Linked DNA regions of Homo sapiens: all the other regions are linked to region 1. The links come from fine-mapping of genetic effects on gene expression. A gene starts in region 1. Each other region holds a variant in brackets. All regions are shown on one strand. Distances are between the middles of the regions.

What was found. PIP is the estimated chance that this variant, and not a neighbour inherited with it, causes the effect. A credible set is the group of variants that fine-mapping cannot tell apart.
Region 2: its variant is the best candidate, but not a certain one, in a credible set for the expression of PPP1CB in whole blood (TOPMed, PIP 0.75).
Region 3: its variant is the best candidate, but not a certain one, in a credible set for the expression of PPP1CB in whole blood (TOPMed, PIP 0.63).
Region 4: its variant is the best candidate, but not a certain one, in a credible set for the expression of PPP1CB in whole blood (INTERVAL, PIP 0.71).

What each region holds. Positions count from the first base shown.
Region 1 is chr2:28,746,575-28,754,465 of GRCh38, forward strand. It overlaps PPP1CB (protein phosphatase 1 catalytic subunit beta), which reads left to right and starts at 5,256. Exons shown (of 8, transcript NM_002709.3): 1 at 5,256-5,602. The coding sequence starts at 5,551. PPP1CB-DT (PPP1CB divergent transcript) reads right to left here and starts at 5,182. Exons shown (of 5, transcript XR_007086259.1): 1 at 5,069-5,182; 2 at 2,246-3,811; 3 at 1,359-1,408. RefSeq lists enhancers at 1,678-1,757, 4,669-4,878, 5,182-5,826 and silencers at 5,009-5,198, 5,689-5,908.
Region 2 is chr2:28,473,318-28,481,208 of GRCh38, forward strand. No RefSeq gene overlaps it. Among named protein-coding and RNA genes, the nearest start is that of PLB1, 19 kb to the right of the region's middle. RefSeq lists an enhancer at 3,896-3,945. The variant G/A (reference allele first, on the strand shown) is at 4,575.
Region 3 is chr2:28,847,262-28,855,152 of GRCh38, forward strand. It overlaps SPDYA (speedy/RINGO cell cycle regulator family member A), which reads left to right. Exons shown (of 8, transcript NM_182756.4): 8 at 2,589-3,349. The coding sequence ends at 2,680. It overlaps TRMT61B (tRNA methyltransferase 61B), which reads right to left. Exons shown (of 7, transcript NM_017910.4): 4 at 5,147-5,238; 5 at 3,811-4,037; 6 at 3,067-3,144; 7 at 2,560-2,981. The coding sequence ends at 2,938. Among named protein-coding and RNA genes, the nearest start is that of TRMT61B, 19 kb to the right of the region's middle. The variant G/A (reference allele first, on the strand shown) is at 3,164.
Region 4 is chr2:28,599,375-28,607,265 of GRCh38, forward strand. It overlaps PLB1 (phospholipase B1), which reads left to right. Exons shown (of 58, transcript NM_153021.5): 36 at 1,435-1,486; 37 at 1,878-1,958; 38 at 2,525-2,590; 39 at 3,447-3,547; 40 at 4,592-4,673; 41 at 5,281-5,385; 42 at 6,479-6,574; 43 at 7,122-7,193. Among named protein-coding and RNA genes, the nearest start is that of PLB1, 110 kb to the left of the region's middle. RefSeq lists enhancers at 6,903-7,534, 7,535-7,891. The variant T/G (reference allele first, on the strand shown) is at 4,114.

The DNA.
Region 1 (7,891 bases):
TACATTAAGGACTAAATTGATTTTGCAGACTGATCTGAGAGTTTAACCACCATTTGTACCACAGTCTCTGTGGGAAAATATATTCCATGTTCCGAACAATTGACCCTTTGGAGTTGGTCCAGTTCCTGAGCTGGGGACGGCATGTACAATATTATGTTACATTTTGGGTTTTATTTGTATGTCTTAGAATCAGAGACTTGTTTGAGCTAGAAGAAGCTTTGGAAATCATTTATTAATGGGCACATTTTGTAGGTAATGAATCCAAGGTTCAGAAAGATTGAATTGTCTAAGGTTATTCAGCTGCTTTGTTCTCCCACCTCCAAGCCAATGCTTTTCCCACTATCCAAGTCATTTTGTGGTCATTTTCCCACATAGTCATTAAACAACTTGAAAGTTGGGAAGTCATGCCTTCTTCAACACAGACTCAAACTCACTAAGTGTTTCATAAATACTTAATTGGTTCATTATTCTTTTTGCTTCAGAGGTCTATTCACTGTAAGGTTTTCTTAAATAACAAGTACCATAGAGCATTTCAATTAAGAACTTATTATGATAGACTGGATTTGGTTTAAATCAAGATTTAAATAATAATTAATAAATATTCTATTTAACCAGTGTTTCCTATATAAAAGACCTATTGGTGTTGGATGTAACTCTGATGAATATATTTCACAGCTCACAAATAGTTTGGCTTTAGTTTTAACAGACATATGCTATTAATTTTAATGTGGTCTTATATATTATGAGAAGCTACTCATTTTATAACTACATAAAAAAAGTAATGCTTTCCTTGTCTTATCTACCAAAACCCAATTGAAACAGAGACATAAAAACCAGTTAGGGCCAGGTGCGGTGGCTCATGCCTGTAATCCCAGCACTTTGGGAGGCCGAGGTGGGAGGATTGCTTGAGCCCAGGAGTTCGAGACCAGCCTGACACAGCGAGACCCTGTCTCTACTAAAAATAAAAAAAAATAGCCGGGCATGGTGGCACATGCCTATGGTCTCAGCTACTACGGAGGCTGAGGCAGAAGGATTGCTTGAGCCTGAGATGTCAAAGCTGCAGTTAGCTGTGAATGAGCCACTGTATTCCAGCCTGAGTGAGGCTCTGTCTCAAAAAAAGAAAAAAAATTAAGCCATTTAGCGGTAAACCTCCAACTGAAAAGGTGAATTATATGTGATTTGGATATACTACAGGAGAAACAGAGCAACAAGAAACAAAACATTTACAGTACACTGTTTCATTTGAAACAAATATTCACATATTGTATACTTTCCCTCATCAAACAGTTATTTCCTGGTATCCATTTCAGTGAGCAGGATGGGGGGAGGGGGGAGCAATAAAAGAGAAACATTCTTACCTGTGTAGATGACTTGCTTTTATTGTAACAAAGGCAACTGGCCCTGTAATCTAATTACAAGAAAAAAAGGCCACAGATAAACTCTTCAACAATTAAATAGTCATTACTTGTGGTAGCTGTTCACCTAGCTTTAATTGCCTTATAGTTAACAGTTCTAAATAGCCAGTTAACTCCTTCAATTACTAGACATTTATTTTTCAATCACTTTATCTTGAAAGATACGGATGTACTATGGAGTTAGCTTAAGACAAACTGAGAGAGAGAGAAGAGAGAGTTGGTTGGGGCCACCGGGGAGGTTACTGACCAAGGGCAGGGAAGGAGGCATTTATTTATATTTGCCTTATAATTCTGGGGGACTAAACTGGCTGAGGACATGCCTTATGGCTTAGCTATAATTTTGGCTATTCTCATATGTATAATGAAATGAAACCAAAACTAAATCTTAAGAACAAATCTTGGCCCTGCCTGGCTGTACCACCTAGGCCTGGCTCTGTATTGAGAGAGGTGGCCTCCTAATGATGCATATATGTCCTTGTCTGGTTTTCCAATTTTCTTGAATTGAGCTGACTATAAAAGCTTAATGCATGCGATATAAAGAATGGCTGACCTCCAGATACAACTAGTAAAATTTCAACTTACCACTACTTAAGACTTATTAAACACTTGATTGAGAAGAATCATATTTATGGAAGGACAGCCCAATGAATGTTGATTCATTCATTTAAAAGTCATCTTGGATTAAGCCAGAGCAGCAAAAAACTATATATCACCCCCTCCACATTTTGCTACCTAAACTTACTCACTTTCACACCAGATTGGCTACTGGCTAATACTGACAGGCATATAAGAAAAACATCCCTATGAAAGTCTTTGCTGCGTTTACTAACCGGAGTCACCAGGCTGCTGTTTACTGTGTTCCGAAATGCCTTCTCTAAGGACTATCCATAGAGACAGCTCTCTGGTCTCAATTCAGAGATGGTTGGGTTCCTCTGAGCACTGGTTTGCCTTTATCTGATAGGCACAGACATTATCTATTAGTAAAAATAAAATAATAATTTTATTAAGACCCCTAAATCATGATGCCCAAACCCCTTGCAATCAGGAAGTCTAGATAAATAACAGGAGTTTCCCTTCATAGAGATTTCTGGAATTACCCAAGGATATTAACATGCATGACCCAGATGCCTCCCTAAGCCTTATGGTGTGCTGGCAAATGTTTAACAACCATTATTCAGAAATAAGACAGGAAAACTGCCATCTATGACTGGTAAGATTATAGGTGATTTTTGTATTTTTTTTCTTCATTTTCCCAACTTCCTTCAGGAAACACATTTTACTCTGAAGGGGGTGAGGGTGGTGGCTAATACTTGGGATTATGGTGAGCTGCCCTAGAAACTATCGGGTTATTAAGTAACACTTAATATATGTACCAGTTTCACTTCAAAATCTGAAGCATTCTGAACTCTTAATTATTTTGGAGGGATATCCCACAGAAAAGTTGGCTGAGGCCCTAGTGATAAAGCTCTTTCTTACAGTGGCCCATTCCTGCCCAAGACTCCAGGCACTGGAAAACCTGGTGGGGGTGGAGAAGGTAACATCAGCAGGCAAGTACTCGGAACCACTCTCCTATCTCCTACCTCTTCTTCTCACGACCTCCAAAACTCTGCTGAGACCGGCCTCCCTCTGCCTCACTTGTGGTGATTTTCTCTCGGATGCTCACTTTCTCTCTGTGCAATCTTTCCTTTGGGTGTCCCTTGTCTTTAAACATGTCTGCGTATACCTGAACTCTAATTGTGGACAGGGTTCAAAGTTCTTTTTCATGGGATTCATGGGCCCCATGAAAATTAGAGGCTAAGTAGGCATCTAAGTAGGAGCATTTACGTGCTCCCAGGCATTCTGTTACACTTAAAGAGGCTCATGGAAGAGATTTGGGCAAGTGGTATAACTCTACAAGCTGCTATATTCAAGTCCTAGTTCCAGCTTAGCCAAAACACCTACTCCGATTGCAACTGATCTTTTTCTTGGTTGCTAGAAAACTGAGAGTCATATGTGTGGCCTACCTCCAGCAAACCAATAGGACCTTACACCATGCATTTTGCATACAAAACTGCTGGCTTAATCTTATCTTTCACACTCACGGTTTTCTTTTGTCCTATTTTTCTCTGTACTTATTTTTAATTTACCCTGATGTACACATTTATGTAAACTACGTTAAATCCTTTCCTCTGGAATAAAGTAGGGTGTAAATAAATTTAACAAAACAACAAAGAGTGATGATGAGCCAGGTCTTCACTCCTGAAGGCCTCAAAACGAACTGGCAGTGATCTGTGAAAACTACAGAGAACTGCCCGTTCATCTCCACAGATTACTGAAGTCTGTGAAAACTACTCCAGCCAGGACCACCATTATAGCCTGCTGCCTGTTGTGTTCACAATCGATGCACAAACTCAACCCTGAAATGGAGAGAAAAATAGGGGAAAAAAGACATTAGGAAATCCTAGCTCTATGTCATCTGGACATTAGAAAGCACTTGGTTGGACAAAGCTTTTTCTCCCCCACAGCACATGCCTGTTTCAGCATCTCAGCCCACATTCACGGAGAGGGAGAATATAGCAATTGTTAAGAATGCAGACTCTAGCACTGCATGCTCTGCTGTTTATTTGTGTTATTTGGGCTAGGTTTTTTAACCGTCTGTGCCTCGGTGAATCCCATCTACAAAGTAGAGATAATAATAGTACCTACCTCACAGGGCAGTTGTAAGGATTAAATGAGGTAACCCGGGTGTAACATTTAAAACAGTGGCAGAGTACATACAGGGATCTGAACAAATGTTAGCTACTATTAGTGATATGTGAGTGGGGGAAGCACACTGCCTTGGACTTGAGGCAATATCAAGTCTGAGTTTCTGGAAAAACACTTGTGGAATAAGTAAGGGCTGGCCACCTCCTAAAACCGGACAAAAGATCTGGCTTGCCTAGATCCTTAGCGTGACTGCTTCTCCTCCTGCCTTTCTAGAGGCAGTATTACGTGATGGAAATACTTGGTGGGTGCTGTGGGCACAAAGATAAGTTAATGTGTTTTTATTCCCTAGGAGCTGAGTCGAGAGTAGGAGAAAAATGCATAAATAATTACCAGGTAGGATGATTAAGCAATATACTGGAGGCAGCAACAGAAACACACCGTGGAAAAAAAATACCCACGGCGTGGATGAAGATATGAGATGTGTGAAAGCGCTAGACACAGGCAGCCACCTGCACCCATGTAAAATTGGATTATTGCTGACTCCTACAAGGCCCACTTTAACGCTTCTTTCAACCAGAATCCCTGCAGAACTAATTTTGTAGAACCGCCGGGGATAAAGACCTTTATTTGCAATGTCGAACTCCAGCAGAGTAACCCCTTTTGCTTTCCACACGCGCAAACCCGGGTCCCAAACGCTGCAGTTCGCGTTTCCCGGCTAACGGAAGAAACACGAGGAACTGTTTGCAGATCTAGGGGATGAAGCCAAAAAACGGAAAGCGAGGCCGAAAGGGCGCAACCACCACGTCTGGAGGAGGCCAGTGAAGTAGAGAAAGGGGAAGGTCAGCCCTGCCCCAGCGCGCTCTGCGTAACCGGGACTTCCTCCGCGCGGCAAAGCCGGGGAACCTCCCTGGCGCCTGCGCCACCGTGGCGAGACTCGGCGCCGTGGACGTGGAGAGAGGGCGACGCACCTGCGCGAAGACGGCAGCGGGAGAAGCCGCTCCAGTGCGGTTGCGCGGCGGCCCAGGCGTCGAGGGGAGCCTCGGCGGGGAGCGCACCGCGCGCCTGCGCGGAGAGCTGCGTGACGCGGCGGCGCGCAAGGGACGTGCGGAGTGAGTGGCGCTGCGGGTGGGGCCGTCGGCGGCGCTGGTGAGCTTTGCGGAGCTGGGCGGTGCCGAGGAGGAGGAGGTGGCGGCCTGGGTCTGACGCGGCCCTGTTCGAGGGGGCCTCTCTTGTTTATTTATTTATTTTCCGTGGGTGCCTCCGAGTGTGCGCGCGCTCTCGCTACCCGGCGGGGAGGGGGTGGGGGGAGGGCCCGGGAAAAGGGGGAGTTGGAGCCGGGGTCGAAACGCCGCGTGACTTGTAGGTGAGAGAACGCCGAGCCGTCGCCGCAGCCTCCGCCGCCGAGAAGCCCTTGTTCCCGCTGCTGGGAAGGAGAGTCTGTGCCGACAAGATGGCGGACGGGGAGCTGAACGTGGACAGCCTCATCACCCGGCTGCTGGAGGGTGAGTGCGCGCCTGGCCGCGGGACAGAGGGAGGTCGGGCACCGCCGCCGACCCCTGCGTCCCCGTCTGCCGCCGGAACGCGAGGGGACCCCTTTCCCGCCCCGAGACGAGTCTCTGGGAGCGCGGCGCGGCGGACGAACCGAGGAGGGGGCGAGGAGGCTCTGGGCGCGGGGGAGCGGCCTCTGGGAGCGCGGTCAGGGGAGATCGGGGGAGAGGGGGCCGTTCCCGCGGACCCTCGGGGGCCAGGCCCGCCGGCCGAAGGCTGTGCGGAGCGGGTCTGCGGGAGACAGCCTTTCGGAAAGGCCGCCGGGCTCCGCGCGCCGTGGTGCTCGCCTCCGGTGACCCGAGGATGGGGAGAGGATGCCTGCCACTGGGCTTTGTGCGTCCGTGGAATCACTGTTCTTCTCTGTTCTCTTTGTGCATTGCCCTTGGCTGCCTCCGATTGTCGTTCCGGGAGTGAATTTTACGTATATATATATAAACCTGTCCTTAACAGGACTGCTTCGTCTGCTCTGCATTTTTACACAATGCTATATAGAATGGATTCTTCTTAAAGAGAGGATAAAATTAGCGGGAATTAATCTACCGTTTGTTACTTGGCCTAAAAAAATTGTAAGACAAGATATTTGATCAGGTTGAAGATGCACCTAAGAAATGTGATGTATGTAGATGGGTTTGCTGAAGGGATTGGCTTTTGCATTTGATTTGAGCAGAGCTTAATTTCTGCACAAACTTAGTGAAAATCTATTTTTAAAGCCTGTCTTGTATTCGAAAGGTATTTGTAGGTCTACGCAGCATTTGAACTTTCCGGGCTCAAGTGTTCTTATTGAATAGTTTTATGTTGGTGGGAAGGCAAGGGGGGAAAACGAAGAGGTGGACTAGCCGGGAGTTAAATGTATTGATTCATTGCAGGATATTATTCAAAGTTAAATGCAGTCTTCTGCCAAACAGTCCCTCTACCCTAAAGTTTTCGTCATCAATAATTGTTTTGTGAGTGTGTAGAAAAGCCTTTAATCCTTTTTAAACAATTTAGAGGCCTCTTTGTTAGCCGCCGTCCAGCGATTGCATATGTACTGTTTGCTTTCAAATTACCTTAAGATAATTGCTAGAGTGAAGCAGTATGTACTTATATTTGGAAAATCATCAAAGAATATTGTAATGGGGGAGGGGTAATTCCTTTTTCTCAAAGTATGTGTCGGTATCTCAAACCCAAGTTCTGTGAGTACCTGTTCTGTAACTAAATACTGTGTATTTGCTCCAGATGTGAAAGCCATCCAGCAGTCTTAAGACTGAATAGGAAGCAAAAGTTTTACCAGGAACTCTTATTTACCTTTTCCTTTACTATCAAGTTATTCCTGGGAGGCCCCCTGGTGCCTGCAGTCAGTGTTCACTACCTAAGACTTTGTTTCAGATGTGAACATCTTGCTGGGTCTTTGAGAAATTTGCTTTGAAAATAATTGTATTTTGTAACTGTTTTATGAGGGAAATACAGTTAATTTAAAAATGTGTATGTCTTGTTTACATTTGGGAAGTAGAGGCCTACTCCTTTTTATTTTTTTTTTATTTTTATTTTTTGAGACGGAGTCTCACTCTGTCGCCCAGGCTGGAGTGCAATGGCACGGTCTCAGCTCACTGCAACCTCCGCCTCCCGGGTTCGAGCGATTCTTCCGCCTCAGCCTCCTGAGTAGCTGGGATTACAGGCACCCCGCCATCATGCCCGGCTAATTTTTTTTGTATTTTTGTAGAGACGGAGGTTTCACCATCTTGGCCTGGCTGGTCTTGAACTCCTGACCTCGTGATCCACCCGCTTCAGCCTCCCAAAGGGCTGGGATTACAGGCGTGAGCCATCGCGCCCGGCATATTTTTATATATTTTAAACTTTGCTTGTAAATTTAAATATTTTAAAAATATGTTTGTATCTCAATTTATTTATATTTTATTTCATTTTCCATATATTTTGTAGGCATAAAACAGATTTATGTTTTAAAATGTTTGTATCCTTTTAAATTAGACGCACCTTTATATGATTACAGGTACTTAAACTTCACGAGTGGGTTGTGCAAGGTTACTAGAAAAGACACTGGGGGAAAAATAAGTGATTCCATTTGTTTTTGTGAATTCAAATTAAATATTTGGTTTGTACAATCTGTTTTCCTTTTTTGGGGGGGCGGGGGGGGGGCGGGTAAGAATTGTAGTCCAGATACGTTTCTCTCTTAATTTAGCAAGCGTTAACAAGTTGACCTCCTCCTTGCCAGGCACCAGCAATCCTAAGATAAGACACAGTCTCTT
Region 2 (7,891 bases), 270 kb before region 1:
GCACTCTGTATCTAGCTCAAGGTTTGTAAATGCACCAATCAGCACTCTGTGTCTAGCTCAGGGTTTGTAAATACACGAATTGACACTCTGTATCTGGCTAATCTAGTGGGGACCGTGGAGAACTTTTGTGTCTAGCTCAGGGATTGTAAATGCACCAATCAGCACCCTGTCAAAACAGACCAATCAGCTCTCTGTAAAATGGACCAATCAGCAGGATGTGGGTGGGGCCAGATAAGAGAATAAAAGCAGGCTGCCCAACCCAGCAGTGGCAACCTGCTGGGGTCCCCTTCCACACTGTGGAAGCTTTGTTCTTTCGCTCTTTGCAATAAATCTTGCTACTGCTCACTCTTTGGGTCCACACTGCCTTTATGAGCTGTAACACTCACCGTGAAGGTCTGCAGCTTCACTCCTGAAGCCAGCAAGACGACGAAGCCACTGGGAGGAAGGAACAACTCCAGACATGCTGCCTTAAGAGCTGTAACACTCACCGCAAAGGTCTGCAGCTTCACTCCTGAGTCAGCGAGACCATGAACCCACCAGAAGGAAGAAACTCCGAACACATCCGAACATCAGAAGGAACAAACTCCGGACACGCCGCCTTTAAGAACTGTAACACTCACCGCGAGGGTCCGCGGCTTCATTCCTGAAGTCAGTGAGACCAAGAACCCACCAATTCCAGACACACCAGAGTGGTGGCTGGGCACATTGGCTCATGCCTATAATCCCAGCACTTTGGGAGGCCAAGGTGGGAGGGTCACATGAGACCAGGAGTTCAAGACCAGCTTGAGCAAAACATAGCAAGAGCCCATCTCTAAAAAAAAAAAATTTTTTTTAATTAGCCAGGCATGATGGTGTGTGCCTGTAGTACCAGTTACGCTGGAGGCTGAGGCGGGAGAATCACTTGAGCCCAGGCTCAAGGCTGCAGTGCGTTGATGGTGCCACTGCACTCCAGCCTGGATGACAGAGTGAGACTCTGTCTCTTAAAAAAAAAAATTCCAGATTGGAAATAGGTGCCCAGGGACACTGAGCTGAGGCTCTAGGGATCCCACTAAGGTCAGCAATTTTTATTTTATTTTTATTTATTGAGAAAACCCAATTTTCCAGGCCTCATATCCTTGACTTTTCAGCAGTATTCTCTATTTTAAAAACATACTTCTCTCCCTGACACAAACCTTTTACTTCTCCAATCAGTTTTTCCTCTGTCTGCACTGTAGGATTTTTTCTTATCTGCCCAGCTATTAAATATCATTAAGAGTTCCCCAGGCCCTTCCCTTCCCCCTTGTTCTCTCTCCTAGCAGGCTCTGCTGCCACAGCTTGAGTGACTGCATCTGACTCTTAGCCACTCTGGCCCAGAGTTCTCATCTGAGTTTCTGATCCATGGGTCTACCTGCCCCTCCGGCATCTCTTGAGTGTGTGTCCTAAAGGCACTGCATGCTGCTTGTGTCCACATCTGCATTGATGATTTCCCTCTGCATTCTTCCAAAATTCCCATGCCCAGTGATCCCTATGCAGGGAATGAAGTGCATCCATTCCAGTGCAAAGGTCAGAGATCTTTCGTTACCTACACACATCATCCATCAGTTTCACTTCCTGAACATCTCCTTACCCACTGTGTCTGGAATTGGTTCCTGCTGGTGGGTTCGTGGTCTGGCCGACTTCAAGAATGAAGCCGGGGACCTTCGCAGTGAGTGTTACAGCTCTTAAAGATGGCACAGACCCAAAGAGTGAGCGGTAGCAAGGTTTATTGTGAAGAGTGAAAGAACAAAGCTTCCACAGCATGGAAGGGGACCCAAGTGGGTTGCTGCTGCTGGCTGGGGTGGCCAGCTTTTATTCCCTTATTGTCCCCTCCTATGTTCCATTTCTGTCCTATCAGAGTGCCTTTTTTCAATCCTCCCCGTGATTGGCTACTTTTAGAATCCTTTCCCTTATTGGCCCCAAACTGGTGCTTTAGCTGCAAAGTGCTGATTGGTGTGTTTTACAGAGCGCTGATTGGTGCATTTTATGGAGTGCTGATTGGTGCATTTTACAATCCTCTTGTGAGACAGGGAAGTTCCCTAAGTCCCCACTCAACCCCGGAAGTCCAGCTGGCCTCACCTCCCACCACCTTCCTCCTTCTCCACCACCATGAGCCTCCTTCAGCTCTGGCTTGGAGAGTGACAGCCTCCTGACTGGGCTCCTGGCTCTGTCCTTATCTCCCAGCCTTCCCTTCTCCATGCAGCTATCTGTCAGCTTTTGAAAACATGAAGCAGGTCCTGTCACTTTCCCACTTACAACCCTTTACCAGCCTCTTCTTCCTCTTAGAATAAAGGCCCAGATGTTACCAAGGCCTAGGGGGCTCCTGCTGACCTCTCCTGCCTCAAGCTCCCTTCATTCTGCATTACAGCCACCTGGTCTTTCCTGGAATTCCCCAAGATCCTACTAATCACAGAGCTGTGCAAAGAGCCTAGGAGAGGCACCTGCTGGTATGTTTCCATATTATCATTTTATATTCATTTGTGAAATTCTTTGATGAATGCCTCTCTACAGTGCTTAGAATATAGAAACTTTCCTTTGCCCCATTTTAAGATTTGAGAATGCATGTGTCATGAAAGCTTCTCATCAGAGGCCCAGATCCTTCAGGTACCAGACCCCATGTATCCAGGCGGATCCCACCTGGGAGCCCAGGCAGCCCAGGGCTTCTGAAATAACAACACCTGGCCTGGCATGGTGACTCACGCCTGTAATCCCAGCACTTTGGGAGGCTGAGGCGGGTGGATCACCTGAGGTCAGGAGTTCGAGACCAGCCTGGCCAACATGGTGAAACCCTGTCTCTACTAAAAATACAAAAAAAAAAGTAGCCGGGCGTGGTGGCAGGCGCCTGTAATCCCAGCTACTTGGGAAACTGAGGCAGGAGAATTGCTCCAACCCAGGAGGTGGAGGTTGCAGTGAGCCGAGATCATGCCATTGCACTCCAGCCTGGGAGACAAGAGCGAGACTTTATCTCAAAAAATAAATAAATAAATAAATAAATAAATAAACAAAAACAAAAAAAAAACAAAACAAACAGAAATAGCAACACCTGATAGCATGTCCCTTCAGAGACCCTGCCCCAGCCATGAGGTCAGTGGCCATACCTGGCGTATGGAATACAAGTTCCATGAGGTCAGTGGCCACGCCTGGCATATAGAATATAAGTTCTTTGAGGTCAGTGGGCACACCTGGCATATGGAAGTGGCACAGTAAACATGTGTTGACCTCAGGCTCCTCTCAGGGAGGATGCCTCTGGGTTCAGGTCACTGAGTTTTGCAGGGGAGGTGCATATTGTCCTTGAGTGCCGGGTAAGGTTTGGGCACCTGGAGCACCAGGGGTCAGTGAGAGGGAGGCGAGAGGGCCTGGAACACAAGGCTCCAGGGAGGTGATGGCCACAGGGGAAGGGAAGAAATGCTGATTGAGGACTGGGCCTTGAATTGGGGAAAGAATTGTTTTATTTGCCACCCATATGAGAAAGGAGGAGGGGAGAGGCCTGCAGGAAAGGAGAGTCCACCTTGAGGATTTATTGCAAGGTGAGTGGCCCTATGTTCTCTGTAAATCACTACTACACACTTGGGACTGAGGCACATCGTTTTTAAGACATCTGCTGACTTGGACAATTATAGGGAGCCTTGAGGTCTTTTAGCAGGTGGGGTCTAACTGGCAGAAGCAACTGAGAGGCTCAAGGAGAGGAGAAGGCTTCTCCTCTGCGCTGTGCCCAGCATGGCTGGGACAGGGTCCCTGAGCCCCCAGCGGACATGCTATCAGGTGTTGCTATTTCAGAAGCCCTTGGGCTGCCTGGGTTCCTAAGTGGGATCCACCTGGATACATGGGGTCTGGTACCTGGAGGATCCAGGCCTCTGATGAGAAGCTTTCATGACACATGCATTCTCAAATCTTAAAATGGGGCAAGGGAAAGTTTCAGATCAGACAAGCTGGGCTGCAGCATGAAACCAAAAGAGATAGAGAGAGGCCCCAGGCTTAATGCCTGGTGGAGGCTCAGTCATGTCTGTTGAAACCTAGGATATTCATCTATGTAGGCAGATAGGAAACACAGGTGACCACCTTCCCAAACAAGCTGGGCACATGACAGAAGCAGAAAGCACCTTATCCTCTCCAGCAAACCATTCTTCGGACCCATTCTGCCCCGCAGAAAAACCCCAGGCAGCTCCCATCCTTTTCTGACCACTCTCATGTAATAAAATATCTAGCCCCATGTGATGTCAAACCTCAAGCTCTGTTCCATTGAAAATGTCTCTGCCAAGCCCATTCAGGCTGGGGAAGCTGCAAGGGCAGAGAACTGTCTCCTTCTCTTACTTCTCTGTTCACCTTTTCTCCCCAGGCTGCTCCAGGGGTGGAGGAGACAGGAAGAAAGCAGAGGGAGGCCAGGAAGGGCTAGCTTGACCTTTTGCAGCTGTATCTGGCATTAGTGCCCTTGGACATGGCAGATTGCAGAGTTAGTTCTGCCCTAGGAGTCTGTGGTTGCTCTGAAGCCTCTCGAATTGCTGAGGCTTCAGTCAACAGACGTGGCTGCCTCCTTGGCCTGGCCACATAAGATCTCTCAG[G/A]CTCCCATCAGCCCTCACCTCACCCCTTCTGAGTCTGCTTCTGCAGGTTCTGTATCTGGCCCCCACGCCCATCCCTGCTCCCCTAAACCCTGGAGGCACAGGCTCTTCTAAGACAGCCCCTCTTTACCCAGCCACTCCCTCTCACACAGGGGCTTTTTCAAGGGTGGGTCGGTCAATCCGTTCCTGTGTTCCTCAAATTTCAGGGGATGCCTGACACATTCTTTGATATCCCCTACAGCCCATTGATCACTTCCCTTCAGAGAAATCCTCACCATGTGCCCCATGCCCCTTCAGTCTCCCAAAGAGTTGGAGGTGGGTGATAGACTGAGGATGGCATGATTGATTTCACAGACCCTTACTCAAGTAGCACAGTGGTCCTGCATCCCAACTTAGGAAACAGTGTGTTTGGCACCTTCTGAATTGCTCTAGGACTTTAGGGGCTCTGCCCAGACAACAGGAAGAGTTACTTTTATCCTTCTATTTCATGAACATCATAAAAGGCAAGGAGGTGTAAAAAAGTGAGGGCAGGAGAGTTAGGCAAGTCCAGGAGAGAGTTCAGAGCAGGACAGGAGTCAATAGAAGTTGTTGAGAAGGAAGAGGGGCCAATGGGAGCCGTAGAGAGGACACTAAGCTGATATTTACATGGCACTTTGGCCCTGCGAAGGGTCTTACATCATCTCATTGAGATATTCAAAAATACTGGGGGAAGGATATTATTCCCATTTTAGCAATGAGAAAACTGAAGCCCCCCACAGGGCAAATGATTCATAGTATAAATAGCAGAATTGGGATGTCAGCCAAGTCAATATATCACCCAATCACCTAGAAAGTTCCAACTGTTCTCTTACCTCCTTAAAAAATGTCTAGTTATTCAAGCAGTACTGGAATACATCCTTGAAGCAAAATATGTATAGACAACTTTTTTTTTTTTGAGATGGAATCCCACTCTTGTTGCCCAGGCTGGAGTGCCGTGGCACAATCTCAGCTCACTGCTACCTGCGCCTCTCAGGTTCAAGCAATTCTCATGCCTCATCCTCCCGAGTAGCTGGGATTACAGGCACCCGCCACCACGCCCGGCTAATTTTTGTATTTTTAGTAGAGGCGGGATTTCACCATGTTGGCCAGGCTTGTCTTGAACTCCTGACCTCAGCTGATCCACCCGCCTTGACCTCCCAAAGTGCTGGGATTACAGGCGTAAGCCACTGAGCCCAGCCTGTATAGACAACTTTAATAAGGCTAAAGACCTTTAGACCGCCAATCCCCAAGCAGAGGTAACCTGGTAACCACTTATATGACTTTTTAATATCCTTATAAGCCTTTTCTTCTATATGTATTACATATGCACACACACATACACACATGCATATGTAGTTTCCCATAGAAAAATATAGTATTTGATTGGTATCTCACTGTTCTTACCTGTCAGCTTCTTAGTTTTTTCACTCAACATTATATTAGGTTGGTGCAAAAGTAATTGCAGTTTTTTTTGCCATTAAAGTAATGCTGCAATTACTTATGCACCAACCTAATAATCCTGAAAAGCTTTGTGAATCTGTGTGGCTCCACCTCATTCTTCTTCATTCCTGTGTATCCTATAGTGTGGCTATTCCACAGCTTATTAGGACACTCTCTGATGATGGACAATGAAATAGTTCCCAGTATTTCAAAGCACAATGTATTGTTTAAAGAACAGGAACATTGGCCGGGTACGGTGGTTCACGCCTGTAATCCCAGCTCTTTGGGAGGCTGAGGTGGGTGGATCACCTGAGGTCAGGAGTTCAAGACCAGCCTGGCCAATATGACAAAACCCTGTCTCTACTAAAAATACAAAAATTAACCGAGCCATGGTGATGTGCACCTGACCTGTAATCCCAGCTACTCAGGAGGCTGAGGCAGGAGAATCGCTTGAACCCAGGAGGCAGAGGTTGCAGTGAGCCGAGATCGTGCCACTGCACTCCAGCCTGGCGACAACGGAAAGAGACTCCATCTCAAAAACAAACAAAAAACCAAAAAACAGGAACGTTGCAGAATCCTGTGTGCCTGTCTCATTGCTCAAGAGGGGCTTAGATGAGTCCTGCTTGATAATGAGAAGCAACCAAAGGTGGGAGGGTGGGGAATGCCCCCAAACCATCCCAAGATGGGGCTGGCTGGAATTCCCGAGAAAGAAGCACTAGCCAGGCAGTCTGAGTATGGGAGTTTATACGAAGATTTAAGGAATTTGGCTTAAGGCTGGGGCCAGTTTCTTTCAGTGTTTTAGGCAACAAGCTAGATACCTTCATCAGTGCCTGGAAATGTTCAAGGCCAAAGTTTGGGTTCAAGCCTGCTGGGAAAACCTGCAGCTGGCTGTGTCATAGAGCAGTCAAGGTGTGGCTGTGACTTTTGGCCAGGACATGGAAAGAAAGCAATGGGAACTGGGGGACCCTACATGATGTTCTGACCAATGTGTGAATTCATTGGCAGAAATCTGGTGTATTAGTCAGTCTTCATGCTGCTGATAAAGACATACCCAAGACTGGGTGATTTAGAAAGAAAAGGAAGTTTAATGGACTCATAGTTCCACGTGGCTGGGGAGGCTTCACAATCGTGGTGGAAGGTGAAAGGCAAGTCTTGCATGGCAGCTGGCAAGAGAGAATGAGAACCAAGTGAAAGGGGTTTCCTTGTATGAAACCATCAGATCTCGTGAAACTTATTCACTATCATAAGAACAGTATGGGGGAAACCACACCATGATTCAGTTATCTCCCACCAGGCCCCTCCCACAACACATGGGAATTATGGGAGCTACAATTCAAGATGAGATTTGGGTGGGGACACAGGCAAACCATATCATTTGGCAAGCCTGGATTATAGGCCTCTGGGAGATTCTGAATTCAAGGGGTGTGTCTGCCTTGTCAGTATTCAGGGAAATCTTTGACAATAGCTCTTAGATTAGGGCTCTATGGTAGAAGGCATGTCTGATTCACAAACGGTGGTTTTAAACATTATTATTGTGGTAAATACACATAACATGAAAGTTACCATCTTAACCAATTTTACATGTGCAGTTCAGTGGCCTTTAATGCATTCAAAATGTGCAAACACCACTAGCGTTCATCTCTGTAACTCTTTTCATCTTGTAAAAATGACACTCTACAGCCATTAAACAGTAACTCTCCTTTCCTGCCTCCCTCCAGTCCCTGGCCACCACCATTCTACTTTCCGTCACTACAATTTTGACTATTCTGAGTGCCTCATATAAGTGGAATCATATAGGATTTGTCCTTTTGTGACTGGATCATTTCACTCAGCATAATGTCCTCAAGATTCATCCACGTTGG
Region 3 (7,891 bases), 100 kb after region 1:
GAACCTAGGAGGTGGAGGTTGCAGTGAGCCAAGACCATGCCATTGCACTCCAGTCTGGGCAACAGAGCGAGACTCTGTCTCAAAACAAACAAACAAACAAACAAACACTTCAGAGCTTCTATATAGTCATGCGCCACATAATGACATTTCACTCAAGGTGGGACTGCATACAGGATGGTGTTCCCCTAAGATTATAATGGCTGGGCATGGTGGCTCACACCTGTAATCCTAGAACTGTGGGAGGCCGAGGCAGGTGGATGGATCACTTAAGGTCAGGAGTTTGTGACCAGCCTGGCTAACATGGTGAAACCCTGTCTCTTAAAAAAATACAAAAATTAGCCGGGCGTGATGGCACATACCTGTAATCACAGGTACTCGGGAGGCTGAGACCGGGGAATTGCTTGAACCTGGGAGTTGGAGGTTGCAGTGAGCCAAGATCGTGTCACTGCACTCCAGCCTGGGCAACAGAGCAAGACTCTGTCTCAAAAAAAAAAAAGAAAAAGAAAAAGAAAAGAAAAGAAGAAGGATGGAAGGAAAGATTATAATGGAGCTGAAAAATTCCTATCACCTACTGACATCATAGACCTGTACTGCAACACAGTACCTTTTCTATGTTTAGATACACACATACTTACCATTGTCTTATAAATGCGAATGGTAGTTAGTACAGTAACATGCTATCCAGGTTTGCAGTCTAGAAGTAGTAGGCTATACCATATAACCTAGGTGTGTAGTAGGCTATACCACCTAGGTTTGTGTAAGTACACTATGTAATGTTCACACAATGATGAAACTGCCCAACTATGCATTTAACAGAATGTACTGCCACTGTTAAGCAATGTATAACTGTATCTGGAAATGTTATAAAAGCTATAAAGGCATCATTATTATATAAATGTTCAGCTAGTTACATACAGAAATATACCACCAGAATACTCTGCTCCTGATTCAATCACTTGTCTAAATGCAGCCAGAGTGATTTTCAAAACACAGATCTAAACATGTCACCCCTTACTTAAATTCTTCAATGGAATCCCATTTTTCTTAGGATACACCAATTCCTTCACGGGCATATGAGAACTTGCATGGCCTCATCCCCATCTATCTATCCAGTCTTTTCCACTCTACCCCAGCATCACTTTTTATTCCCATTTTCCCTGCTGTAGTTAATTCCTACTTAGCATTCAGTTCTCAGCTCAATTGTCACTTGCTAGGGCAAAGTCCCCCATTATGGTTACTCATAGTACCTTGTACTTCTTTGGGGGGAATTTATAACAGTTTTAGTTTTACATCTGTGTGATTAATGTCAAGCTCTATCATAGACTATAAACTCTAAAAAGGCAGAGATTTTACTTTAAAATGTCCTACGTTCTATAATATGTTATTTAATAAAAAATTTACACACATGTATAATTTTAAATACTTCTAGCCTAAGAGATAAATCTAGGAATGGTAGCATTTACCCTCCAAGGCATTACTATTTTACAGCCCATAAAACAGGCCGGGCATGGTGGCTCCACACCTATAATCCCAGCACTTTGGGAGGTCAAGGCAGAAGGACTGCTTGAGCTTCGGAGTTTGAGACCAGCCTGGGCAACATGACAAACCCCGTCTCTACCAAAAAATCCACAAAAATTGGCTGGGCGTGGTGGCATGTGCCTGTAGTCCAACTACATGGGAAGCTGAGGTGGGAGGCTTGCTTGATCCTGGGAGATTGAGGCTGCAATGAGCCATGATCACGCCACTGCACTCCAGCCTATGTGACAGAATGAGAATCTGTCTCAAAAAAAAAAACACACACACACAACTAAAAACCTATAAAACATCTATATTTAAACAGAGACCTAATCATTCTAAGTCACTGTTTATCTGTAAAATATGGATAACCTGAAAGATAAGTTGTCCATAGTAAGTGAAAAACATATATAAAGTTTTCAAAACAATGTATGGTATGTGGTAAGTGCTAAATAACTGGTGCCTATGAATAATAAGTCCCATTTGTAATTAATTCATGTTTCCAAAATGTATTCCCCAAACATTTTTTTTTTAAGATGGAGTCTCGCCCTGTCACCCAGGCTGGAGTGCAGTGGCACAGTCGCAGCTCACTGCAACCTTCGCCTTCCAGGTTTAAGCGATTCTCCTGCCTCAGCTTCCCAAGTAGCTGGGATTACAGGTGCCCGCCACCACAACCAGCTAATTTTTGTATTTTTAGTAGAGACAAGGTTTTGCCATGTTGGCCAGACTAGTCTCGAACTCCTGACCTCAGGTGATCTGCCTGCCTTGGCCTCCCAAAGGCGTGAGCCACTGTGCCCAGCCCCCAAACATTTAATTTGTGTAGTAACACTGAATAATTCTAATGTTCTTTCAAGCTGGTTAAAAAGATTCTGAGGGGATAAAAGAGATTCAAGAGCCTGTTACATCTTTTGTTACAATTTTTAAGGTGATTATATCATTCTTAAGTTTCCCCCCATTATTTACTGTAGCCCAGATTTCCTTATTATTTTTTAAGACATATACAAGCCATTATAAGATGTATTTAAAATGGACAGATACATAAAATTTATCTTAAAATGCATATTTTATTTCAGTAGTCAATGACCATCAATCAAATAAAGGAAAGAAAACTAATTTCTTGAAGAAAGACAAATCTATGGAGTGGTTTACAGGAAGTGAAGAATGAGATGGCCCAACTAAACCAATTTGGAATCATTAACTACAAAATGTCAAACTAACTGCAAGACAAGTGTCAAAATGGGATGTTTAAGCAGTTTTGCTATGTTATACATCTTTTAGTTGTTATTTTCAAAATTATATGTATAAGTTATATAAGTCATAGTAATAGCTAAAAATGCCAATCTATGGAAGCAGTGATTTTCAATATAAAGTTCTATTTTGATATTTTTCCATCTTCAAGTCAGTTACTGTCATCTGGAGTACTCAGTTAAGTTGTGGTTTGACCTTCCTCAACTTGACAAGAAAAGCTAATTTAAGAGAAGAAAAACATAAAGTCATTATATTAATTAAAAGAAAAAACACCATTTAATATGTTCTGAAAACATTACTCACCTGTATGACCAGGTTGCCAGTGTACTGGTCTAGCAACATAGGGAAATGATCCATATGGAAAATCAGAATGCGATTCTTCTGTTGTAAAAAAATATAT[G/A]TACTATAAGCTACATAAAATATTTTCTATTTTTTTCACAAAACTGTTAAAATATGAGTTACTCTCTTTATTGTAAGTTTTTTCTTTATTTATTTCCTTGCATATGTTTTAGAGCTACTCTGCCAGTTATTATACAGAAACTATTTGTCAATGATTATGTAATAAACATATGATTTTATAACCAAATGGATAAGCCTATATCATAAATCAACTGATACTTGAAAACTTGTTCATGGCCTAAATAATGTGTATATATGACAAAGACCTAAACTCAGTTCTTTCAAGAATTCCAGCAGCATCTTAGAAGTTGCTTTTTGGAATATTAGCTATTTGCCTATCAGGTCCCATTAATAATCAGTGATCTAAATATAAAACATCCTTAATACATTTAAATTATTTCACAAACCAAGCTCCTTGTGACAAGTAAAATATGAATATTATAAAAAGCTCAATTCTTCAAAGGTATCAGAGTTTTAAGTAAAAGGCAGGAAAAGTCATTATTCTGTGCCTTATACATCTTAACAGAATAAATATCACACTTTTCTATAGAAAATTGCTGAGGAATATTTTTATAATCTATTGGTCAGTATACTCAGGAACTCATTCTCCATTCATTACTGCATGCATAAAGTAAAACTGAAGCTCACCATGGTCATCCTCTTGAAACAGCTCACCTTTAACTCCAATTTTCTCTTGAGAATCTAGTTGTACATCTGTGTTGATTTTAGATTCTACTTTTTGAGCTAAAATTCCATTTTTCTGTTTTGCAAGGCAAACCAACCAATCTCTGACAATGACCTCGCTTATCTTTTCACATGAAAGAGCAAGTTCACAGGTGCGAATTCCATCTAAAAGTTCAATAACCTGTGTGATGCTTTCAGAAAAGTGAAAAATTTACATTTCTACTAAAATAATAACATTATATTTATTTAAGTTCCCTATACCTCTTGCCCACATTTAAATACCATAGTTAAATTAAGGCAGGAGAGGGTTTAAATATGCAAGTTAGGAGGCATAAAAAGTACCTTCACAAAATTCTAAGTAAACAAACACAGAGACCATAATTTAACATTACTGTTCACATTATACTTTTAAAACATTTCTTCCAGATTGTCAGAAGAAAATATGCATCTTATATTACTATTTATGTAAAAAATGATTTAAACAGTAATATAGGGTTGGGCGTGGGTCACGCCTGTAATCCCAGCACTTTGGGAGGCTGAGGGGGGCAGATCACTTGAGGTCAGGAGTTCCAGACCAGCCTGGCCAACATGGTGAAACCCTGTCTCCACTAAAATACAAAAATTAGCCGGGTGTGGTGGCGCATACCTGTAATCCCAGCTACTCAGGAGGCTGAGGCAGGAGAATCACTTGAACCCAGGAGGCGGAGGTTGCAGCGAGCTGAGATCATGACACTGCACCCCAGCCTGGGTGACAAAGCGAGACTCTGTCTCAAAAAAAAAAAAAAAAAAAAAAACGAAAAAAGTTTAAAAAAAAAAAACACTAAATAAATATACAGTAATATAAATGAACTTGGGACTTGTCATTTTAAAACAGTTGTATAAGATGCCATATACACTTTATTCAGTTACAAAATGAATATTTTGGCTGGGCGTGGTGGCTCAAGCCTGTAAGCCCAGCACCTTGGGAGACCAGGTGAGCAGATCACCTGAAGTCAGGAGTTCAAGACCAGCCTGGCCAACATGGTGAAACCCCTTCTCTACCAAAAATAGAAAAAATCAGCCGGGCGTGGTGGCGGGCGCCTGTAACCCCAGCTACTTGGGAGGCTGAGGCAGGATAATTGCTTGAACAGGGGAGGTGGAGGTTGCAGTGAGCTGAGATCATACCACTACACTCCAACCTGGGTGACAGAGTTTTTTTCTGTCTCAAAAAAAAAAAAAAAAAAAAAAAAATTTAGTTTGATACTTAAGCAAAAGTGCACTTAAAAGTTACATTACAAAGAAAAACAGTTATATTACTCACTTTACTACATATACAGCACATACACCACCATGCTTAAGATGTGGGTAAAAAACAGGCAAAGTAACATGAGGATTTAACATATCCAAAGCTACCTGTGTGGGGGAAAAAGAGAACTGGATCAGTCTGATTCCGTTTAAATAAAGCATAAGTTTTCTTATTGTGGTGAAATGACACACTTTTGGACAGCAATCAAAGTATTTCATTTTTTAGAAGGTAGTATTATTAACTATCATTTTACCACTCCCAAAAGGGTATGTTAATTATTATACAGTTGGGCAATGTGGCTTCTGCCTGTAATCCCAACACTTTGGGAGGCTGAGGCAAGAGGATCCATTTGAGGCCGAGTTTGAGAACAGCCCAGGCAACATAGCGAGACTCTGACTCTATTGAAAAAAAAAAAAAGTAGCTGGATGCAGTGGCACAAGCCCGTAGTACCAGCTATTCAGGAAGCTGAGGTGGGAGGGTCACTGGAGCCTAGGAGTTCGAGGCTGTAGTGACCTATGACTGTGCCATCATACTCCACCCTGGGCAAGAGTGAGATCCTGTCTCAGGGAAGAAAAAACAATTTGTCATAGTACTTGATGATACTGAAAAATCATAATGATATGTCTTGTACTTTGCATATTAATATGGAAATATTGATTTGGCTATGTATGTATATATGAATATAACCAAAGAAAGATTCCTGTATGCCTGTATTATCAATATTGCCAAGTGTAAAACACGCCATTACAACATGAAAAATTTAAACATTTGAGACAATGTGAATTTCCTTTTTTTTTTTTTGAGACAGGGTCTCGCTCTGTTGACCAGGCTGGAGTACAGTGGCACAATGTCACCTCGCTGCAACTTCCACCTCCTGAACTCAAGCAACCCTCCCACCTCAGCCTCTCGAGTAGCTGAGACTACAGGCAGGCGCCACCATTCTCAGCTAACTTTTTGTATATTATGTAGATACAGGTTTTGCCATGTTGCCCAGGCTGGTCTTGAACTCCTGGATTCAAGCGATCTGCCCGCCTCGGCCTCCCAAAATGCTGGGATTACAGATGTGAACCGCTGCACCTGGCTGACAATGTGAATTTCTATTGCCAAAACTTATAAATTTAAATGCTTTATTTCAGCTTTGGCAACAGAAATTCACATTGTTGGCCAGAGGCAGTGGCTCACGCCTATAATCCCAGCACTTTGGGAGCCCAGGCGGGTGGATCACCTGAGGTCAGGAGTTTGAGAGTAGCCTGGCCAACATGGCAAAACCCTGTCTCTACTGAAAATACAAAAATTAGCCAGGTGTGGTGGTGCACACCTATAGTCCCAGCTACTGGGAAGGCTGAGGCAGGACAATTACTTGAACCCGGGAGGCAGAGGTTGCAGTAAGCCAAGATTAAACCACTGCACTCAAGCCTGGGTGACAGAGTGAGATTCTGTCTCAAAAAAAAAAATCATATCCCTTATTTCCTCTTTATTCTTGTTTCAATTGCAGTATACATGGCTATAGTCACAGAAGATGCCAGTAAGTACAAAGATAAGTGAAAATTTTTCAAATAAAAAATTAATTAAAAACAAAAAATAAATCTGGTCAAAATAGAAAATAAAGTAACATTTACTGTTGTATTAACTCCAGAAAGCTTAGAGATATGCTGGCATATCTATTTACTAAATGATAAAATATTAGATTGTTTGTGTCTTTTAAAAACAGTACTAATCAGTCAAGGGACATCTTATTAATTTATTCACCAAATATTTATTAAGCACTGTCTACATGGCAAACATTTTTCTAAGTGGTAAGGATATAGTTGGAGCTTATAGTCTGTTTCACGGGATCTAATGAAGGGGTAGACATTAAACAAAAATAAGAAAACATATAAATAAATAGGACAGAGGGTGGTGAGTGACATGAAGAAAAACAGTTATAAAGCAGAATAGGCGTGGTAACTCATGCCTGTAATGCCAGCACTTTGGGAAGCCAAGGGAGGAGGATTGCTTGAGCCAGGAGTTCCAGACCAGCATGGGCAACACAGTGAGACCCCGCATTTATAAAAATAAAAAAAATGGCAGGGTGCAGTGGCTCATGCCTGTAATCCCAGCACTTTGCGAGGCCGAGGTGAGCGGATCACCTGAGGTCACGAGTTCAAGACCAGCCTGGCCAACACGGCGAAACCCCGTTTCTACTAAAAATACAAAAATTAGCCAGGTACAGTGGTGCACACCTGTAATCCCAGCTACTTAGGAGGCTGAGGCAGGAGAATAGCTTGAACCCAGGAGGCGGAGTTGCAGTGAGCAGAGATCAGGCCACTGCATTCCAGCCTGGGCGACAGAGCGAGACTCCGTCTCAAAAAAAAAAAAAAAAAAAAAAAAAAAAAAAAACTGCCAGGCGTGGTGGCATGCTCCTGTGGTTCCAGCCACTTGGGAGGCTGAGGAGGGAGGATCACCTGGGCTTGAGAAATCAAGGCTGCAGTGAGCTGTGATTGTGTCACTGCACTCCAGCCTGGGTGACAGGATAAGACCCTATCTCAAAACAAACAAAATAAGCAGAGAAAGAGGGAAAGAAAGGGACAGGTCAGGGAAAGGAGGTGTCATTTTATACATAGACTGGTCAGTGAAGAGACCTGAAGAAAATAAAATTAAGTTTAACCCATGAAAATGTAGGGGAGAAGTGAGCTCCTGGTGGAGGGAACAGCAAATATTTAATACAAACACTCAGGTAGTAGGCTACTTGGGGAGTCTGTTGAGGCCACTGTCACTGCA
Region 4 (7,891 bases), 150 kb before region 1:
TCTGTCACATGTCATCTTCTTGCTCAGGCCCACACCTTCTGGTTGAGGGGTGTGGCCCCCAGACCCACTCCCTCAGCCTGGAAAGACTCTTGGTAATAGAAACAGCTGGGGACAGATGGTCCCACCACCGTGTCCTAGGAGATCACCTTGCTATGGATCCATCCCACCCAGGTCTATAACGGGGCCCTGAACAAGTGGAAGTGGGGAGCACAGACGCCTGAAATCTATTCCTTCCATAAATTATAATTTTGGCCTTTTTTTAGATAGAGTCTCATTCTATCACTCAGGCTGGAATGCAGTGGCACAATCTCTGCTCACGGTAACCTCCGCCTCCCAGGTTCAAGTGATTCTTGTGCCTCAGCCTCCGAGTAGCTGGGATTACAGGCTTCTACCATCACGCCCAGCTAATTTTTGTATTTTTAGTAGAGATAGGATTTCACCTGTTGGCCAGGCTGGTCTCAAACTCCTGACCTCAAGTGATCCACCCACCTTGCCTCCCAAAGTACTTGGATTACAGGCATGAGCCACTGCACCTGGCCTTTTTTTGTTTTTAAGATGGGGTTTCACTCTGTCACCTAGGCTGAGTGCTATGGCATGATCTCAGTTCACTGCAACCTTCACCTCCCAGGTTTAAGCAATCATCCCACCTCAGCCTCCCTAGTAGTTGGGACTACAGGCATGTACCACTATACCTGGCTAATTTTTCTGTAATTTTTGTAGAGATGGGGTTTTACCATGTTGCCCAGGTTGGTCTCAACCTCCTGGACTCAAGCAATCCACCCACCTCAGCCTCCCAAAGTGCTGGGATTACAGGCGTGAGCCACCAGGCCTGCCACCTTCCATAAATTATAAACCCAAGCATGTGTAGAGCACATATGATTCCCTACCTCTTTTTGAAAGAACCATTTAGATAAGTTTACAAACAAAAGAATATACGTAAGAGAAAAATCGCAGCCATTGGAGGAAATAAAGAGGAAGCCTGTGTGTCGATATGAACATTTTTACGGTTATTATGTTTGAGCATCAAACTCAGCTTCCTGGCAGCCAGAGTGAAAAGAGGAAGCATGCTAGAAGTTTCATAGGTCTAATTTTAGGATCTAAACTAGTCTTCCAAAGGAGATGAATGGTCTCTTAGCATGGAATCCTAAAGGCCCTTTTGCATGTGGAGTCCCAGAAAGGTGACCATGAGCAACAAATATAATTGGCAGTACTTTGACTACAGCTGTAGGACAAACACATCATTGGCTTTTCAAATGATTATCTGTTGTAATAACTTTCCAGAAGAGGCAAGTCACTCCTGGTTTCTGAGCCTCGGGATCTCTGCCAGCTCATGCAGTGGGGATGATACTGTAGAAGCCTCTGGTTCAGGCCCTCTAGGAGGAAAACTATGGGCACTGTTCCTCAACAGAAGGATGGGTTTTCTCTCTTTCTCAGGGATCTTATGAGCCAAGTCCAAACTCTGATGCAGAAGATGAAAGATGATCATGTGAGTCAGATTTACTGTTATTTCTAAACATTAATTTTCTAACCCACTAAAGTTGTCTCCAAACGGAGTGGCCTGCTCTGAAAAGCAGTGAGCCCCATGTTATTAGAGGCATTCAAGCAGTGGTCGGACAGCCCCCTGACAGAGGTCCTGTGGAGGAGGGTATGTCAATGGAGAGAGCTTTGTTGCTGGGTACAGCGACACTGAAAATCCCTCCTGATGCTAAGAGTCTGTGGTCTATAAATAAACCTCTAAAATTCCTTCAGTTCAGAGATGCTGATTCCATTATTTCAAGTGGGCAAGGATGTTATAGAGGGTTGAATGGATTTCCTAGGGCAGGGATATTTTCATTTCCTTGTTGGAAATTATCAAGCATTTTCCTCCCTCCATATAGAGAGTAAATTTCCATGAAGACTGGAAGGTCATCACAGTGCTGATCGGAGGCAGCGATTTATGTGACTACTGCACAGATTCGGTAATTGGGGCCAGGTCCAGGCCTACTTGTTGTTCCTAACTTTGCCCAGTAGGCGTTGGAGATCTTCCCTGAGAACAGTTCCTAAAACCAATCCTAGGATTATCCACCTACACCTATGTCTGCACATATACACATACCACACACACACACACACACACACACACACACTTCTTACCCCACCACCCTCCAGGTCCTTGGCACCATCTCCATGTCCTAGGTGGTGAGGTAGCAGGTGGCAGATATATGGTATTTCTACTCCTCTCTCTTATAACTCCTGAGAATTCAGAAAGAGGAAACTGTAGCAAGCAATTGGAAGGAGGAGTCTCCACTTTCTGCTCCTGAACCAAAGCTCTGGCTGAAGGTTCCAGTCTTCCCACTGGCCCATCTTTGACAACAGCAAGTAGTCAACTGTTCATCTCAGATTTTGACATGGTGAGCTGGCCACAGCTGGAGGCTAGAGGGGGAACAAGTCCTCAGGGCTGGAGCCAGAAGGGAAGTTGAGAACTGCCCCACTGCCCTCCCACCCTAACCAGTTCCTCCTTTTCCTCCTTCCTGTCTCTTTCTAGAATCTGTATTCTGCAGCCAACTTTGTTCACCATCTCCGCAATGCCTTGGACGTCCTGCATAGAGAGGTGGGTGGGGGGCTTCCACAAGCTGGTAACAGCTCAAGCATGGTGAGGGTGAAGGTGGATGGGGGGAAAGAATGAGAGAAGAACCCCTTTCTCTCAAGGAGACAGCCAGGGGCATGGACTCCTTCCCTTTTCAGAGGTTGGGGTCTAACCCCAAGGAAACCTTATTTTATATGGAATCAGCCCAGAAGGGCCTCAGGTCTGAAGGAGGGAAGGCTGTTCCCTCACCACTACATGGGACACTCCTTGGTGGAATTGTCTAATGTCTCCCCACTACTATCCGGGACATTTTCTGGTGGTGGCAGCCAGGTGGCCCCCAGGCTGGGCACTGCCTTCTGAGCCACAGGGTGTGTCTAGAGCAAGCCCCTGTCTGGTCCTGCACCCAGCAGCACATTCCCCCTCCACCACCACCATCTTCTGGCAAGGACAAGCTGCCCTGGCTGCGTGAGACAGGGCACTCTGACCACCAGATGCTCCCCTGTGGGGGTTGAGTCTGCGTGCCTACTCAGCAGAGTTAGGCCAGTTTGGGCTGGAGGGAAGAGGTTGCCTATCTCACCGAAGGTAATTCTAATGTATCTGGGCTTGCTACATGATGGCTAAACAGAGATGATCTCTTAGTCTTTATTGTCCCACTCCAGGAGGTGCCATTGCCGCTGCAGCCCCTTTGGGTGGCACCCATGGAGTTGTGTGATGTACGGCCTGTAAGGCCCTACGAGGTAGCCCTGTATAGACTCCTCCCCAGAACTCAACTCCAGAAAGACCAAGCTGGATTGCTAAAGGAACCCATTCCTAGGGGCCCTGAGACAGCCCCAGGAAGAAGTGCCTGGAGCCCCCCTCTCATCTGCAGCTTTTCCCTTAGGTGCCCAGAGTCCTGGTCAACCTCGTGGACTTCCTGAACCCCACTATCATGCGGCAGGTGTTCCTGGGAAACCCAGACAAGTGCCCAGTGCAGCAGGCCAGGTAGGCAGGTCCTGGCTGTCCCCACACTGGAGATGCCCTCACCTCCTGGTCTGGCCCACATGCAGTGGTGATGCCTCAGGGTCTTTGTGACTTGGTCTATCCATGTGTCCAAGTCTGTAAAGGAGGACTTCTGCCAGAACGTCCCCTTCCAGAGGCTGGAGCCATGACTCCCCTGTTACCCAACTTCAAGGTGCCTGGCAGGAACTTCTATGATACCAGGCAGCCACAGAGGGGAGGGATCAAAGTTGGGACAGAGGCTGGTGTTTGAGAGACAGGATAGCCTAGACTGTGAACATGGGCAGTGGTTAGGGAAGTAGACATATGTGGTCAAACTGTAACAGAAAGCAAGGAAAAGGTACAAGCAACTCAGTTACCTTTAGGGGAAGAAGAGAATTAGGAGGGACACAGGGAGCTTCAAACTGGGAGTGTTTTGTTTCTTAAACTGGGCCATAAGTACATGGATGTGTGTTTTATTATTCTTTATATCTTACACATCTATTTACTCAGCAAATCTTACAGAACTTCCTGTGTACCAGGCATTGTTTCAAGTGCTTTAGAAATCTCTC[T/G]CTTAAGTAGATGTGATGGGTGTGAAATAATTCATGATGAAACCAAAGGGGACACAGTAGGGCACTCATGTGAAAGAAGGAGAGGTCTAAGGCATAGCATCAGAGGCCCCAAAATATCAGCTCCAACACCAGAGGATGCATTTTCTTTTTAATTAAACACTAAATTTTCACTGCCCAAATTCATTTGCTCAGCTGAATAATCGGTTGCAGGCCCAGCACCTGCAGTCCAACACTTGTGCTCTGTTGGTATGAGAGGGTGCTCATTCCCACACTGGCTCCCTCCCTCGGGCCATCTCCAGTGCCCCTGCCAGGCCTGAAGCCTGCCCCTGAGCATGTGCGCCAGAGCCTCAAGGCTTGAGTGCTCCTAAACCAGGGCGGGAGGGAGCCTCTCCACCCCTCCCCTGAACCTGGGCAATCAGAACCAGCCCCTGATGGAAGCCTGAGCTCTGGGGCCTCCTGCCTCCCCCTCTTTGTGCAGCGTTTTGTGTAACTGCGTTCTGACCCTGCGGGAGAACTCCCAAGAGCTAGCCAGGCTGGAGGCCTTCAGCCGAGCCTACCGGGTAAGACCAAGAAGGGCACCATGCTGTGTCCTCTCCCCTACGTTCACTCTAACACACAGCCCAGAGCCCCTAGAGGAGGCACACAGGGAAGGAAAAGCTGGTCAGGGATTGTGGGGAGACGGGGAGCAGCCTGGGTGCCTTCCTCTGTCTCACGTGACTGTGGTGTCTCAGGTGCCCTGGTTGGAATCATCCCAGTAGGATCCAGGTGGAAAAGCCCTCATGGCCCAGCTACCGTTGAGGGCTTAACCCCAACTCCTGGCCCGTAGCCCTGGATGCCTCATGAGACCACCTTTCCCTCCCCCACTCCCACTCCAAAGGCAGGTGCCGAGCCTCTGGAGGTTCTTCCCAGGTTTTTATCCCTTTTGGGACTTCCTGCCTAGCCCTTCAGAGAGAGTAGTCTACTTACAATCAAAACAAAAAGGTGACCCAACCTGTTTCCAAATTCTCTGGAAAGGGACTTGCCCTCAGGTGATTTGTGTTCTCAAGGGAAAGGCTGAGTCGGCCCCTCCATCCAGGGAGATGGACTGCCCACCACCCCTACTCTTGCCTCACTGGGTCCTGGGCCCACCCAGGGCCTGGGCTGAAGACCCTGTGCATGTGTCCCCAGAGCAGCATGCGCGAGCTGGTGGGGTCAGGCCGCTATGACACGCAGGAGGACTTCTCTGTGGTGCTGCAGCCCTTCTTCCAGAACATCCAGCTCCCTGTCCTGGCGGTATGTCCCCTGCCCTCACCCATGGTACTCTTTTAGAGGAAGAAATGCAAGGCAGAATTGCCAGTTGCTTCCACGAGCATGTGCATAAAATGGGAAAGACACAGCTCTCCAGACGCTGTGCTGGCAGGTGCAGGCTCCCTGAACGCCTGAGCCACATCCGTATGTGCGAGGCTCCCATGACCCCTGTAACAGCCTCCATTGTGTTGAGCACCTACTAGTGCCAGGCACTGTGCTTCCCATAGATAAAACTGTCACATCTGCCTTTGGAAATGAGTGTGATCATCCGCATGGAACACAGGTGCAGAGATGTGAAGCGTCCTTCCTAAGATCATTTAGGAAATAAGGGACAGGGAGGCCAACATGAACACAGCCAGCTCCAGATGACTAGTTTTCTGCCACGCACGTGGTCTCTCTCGTGTGCAACGCTGCGGTTATAAGGGAGCATTCTGGGGGTTCTCTGTTTCCACCCAGGCCATGCCCTTTGCCTGGCACTTCCACTCTGAACAGAAGAGATCTGTGAGTGGACCAGGTGAGGACTGAGGTCTGTCCCCCTGGGCTGCCATCCCAAGAGCCTCACCTAACTGGAAAGCAGGAAGGAGAGCAGCTCTATGCACCCCCAGCACCTCCAGATGAAGAGGCTGGAGTCAGGGGACCCAACTACCCAGGCCTTCCCCAAGGCTTTGTTCCATTCTCCCCACCAAGACTACCAGGACCAGCAGACCAAAAGCTGGGAAGTAGCTTTTCCCAGCTGGCTGGGCTAAGACTCTCTGCGGGACCAGGATCCCACTCCTTCATCTGTGGCATGGCCTCGGGCATTACATGAATGTGCCCAAAAATAAATACGACACTTCTAATTGAATAAGGGGCACTTGTAGGGTCAAAAAGGAAGGTTGGGGGTTGGCGTCACCCAAAACTATTCTTTGTGGGATCGCTCTGATCTCTCTGTTAAGGTGAATGGGCCCTGTGGTGGCTGGTGACCTGGAGCACTCCAGGGGAAGGAAGGTGTTGAGTGGTCAGTCCCAGGGCCAAGTCCGCTGGTGGTGGCTCCCTCTGAACCAATAGGATCTTGAGGGGGTATATTGGTCTCTTTCAGGATGGGCTCCCAGATACGTCCTTCTTTGCCCCAGACTGCATCCACCCAAATCAGAAATTCCACTCCCAGCTGGCCAGAGCCCTTTGGACCAATATGGTAAAATAAGTGGGGTGTTCCTTGTTCTCTGGGGTTCTAGTCTAGGGCAGGGCACCAGCCCCTATAGAATGGAGTCTTGCAAGTGAGGCTGAGGGGGCAGTGGCTGGTACATCTATAAACGTCTATGCAGTTGGAAATGCGGAGTCCTTAAGAGTCTGCTCAGCCTGGGCTCAACTGCACCCTCTCCTCAGAGCTTTGAACTCTGAGGAGGGACCTCTCTACAGAAATGCAAGCCCAAAACCCCATATTCATTCCACTTTCCCTATGTGCCGGCCACCATGTTAGGCAGTTTAAGCCACGTTATCTCATTTAAGGCTCTGCATATCCCTGCTAGAGAAGCATGACGAGTCTCCAAGGAAGCTACTCCCAGAGAAGCAAAGCGACTGGCCCAAAACCCCACGGCTGGCAACTGGCAGAGCCAGAAGTGGGAGCCAAGCCCCCTGAAATCGAGTTCTGAGCTTTCCCCACTGCAGGATTCTGCCAGGGAATGTTCACTTCCATGGAAACAAACTACTACACCCGTGTCTCTCTTTTCTTCCCTGATCAGCTTGAACCACTTGGAAGCAAAACAGAGACCCTGGACCTGAGAGCAGAGATGCCCATCACCTGTCCCACTCAGGTAGTAGGGGAGGACCTGCCTGGCTCCTCTCCACAAACCAGGGCACACAGCTCGCCCTACCCACTTCGTCCTCCACCACAGCTTCCTCAGTACCCATCTTGCCCCCTTACTGAGGCCTGAGAGATTTGGAGGATGGAGGGGAGTCCATGAGGATGGACAGGGGAGGTGAGAGGGGAGACAAGAGTGCAGCTGTCATTGGGAACAGGAGATGCAGCAGGGAGAGGAGGCCTGGGCCCCAGCAGAGGGAGAGGATCCCGGTGAGAAAAGTGGGCTCCTGAGAGAGGAAATCAGGATGCCAGGAAAATGGCAGGAGGGCTTCTCTTAGCAGTGGTGTTTGGGGCAGATGAAAAAATCTGACTGCAGGTTAGAGGGCCCAGGCAGGAGCCAGGCAGGCTTAAGAGCTGTGGTTGGAGAGAGGAGAGCCTGGATTAGGGAGATTCCACAAGGAAAGGATCACAGAGGACAGCAGCAAAGGGCAGAGCCCAGAGCTGTATGGAGGAGGGACGAGGGTGGGCCTACCAGGACACGGCAGCTCCAGGCTCCTTTTAAGGAGGAATCCGTAAGTGGTTGTTAAGCTTGACTTCAGGCCTGGGGTGGGGGCAGGTTCTCATTGTCTTCAGCTCCTGTTTCTAGGCCCGGTCTTATGGCTTTTTAACCAAATAAGGCCAAGGCCAGAAAACCCTCAGCAGCAATAAAAG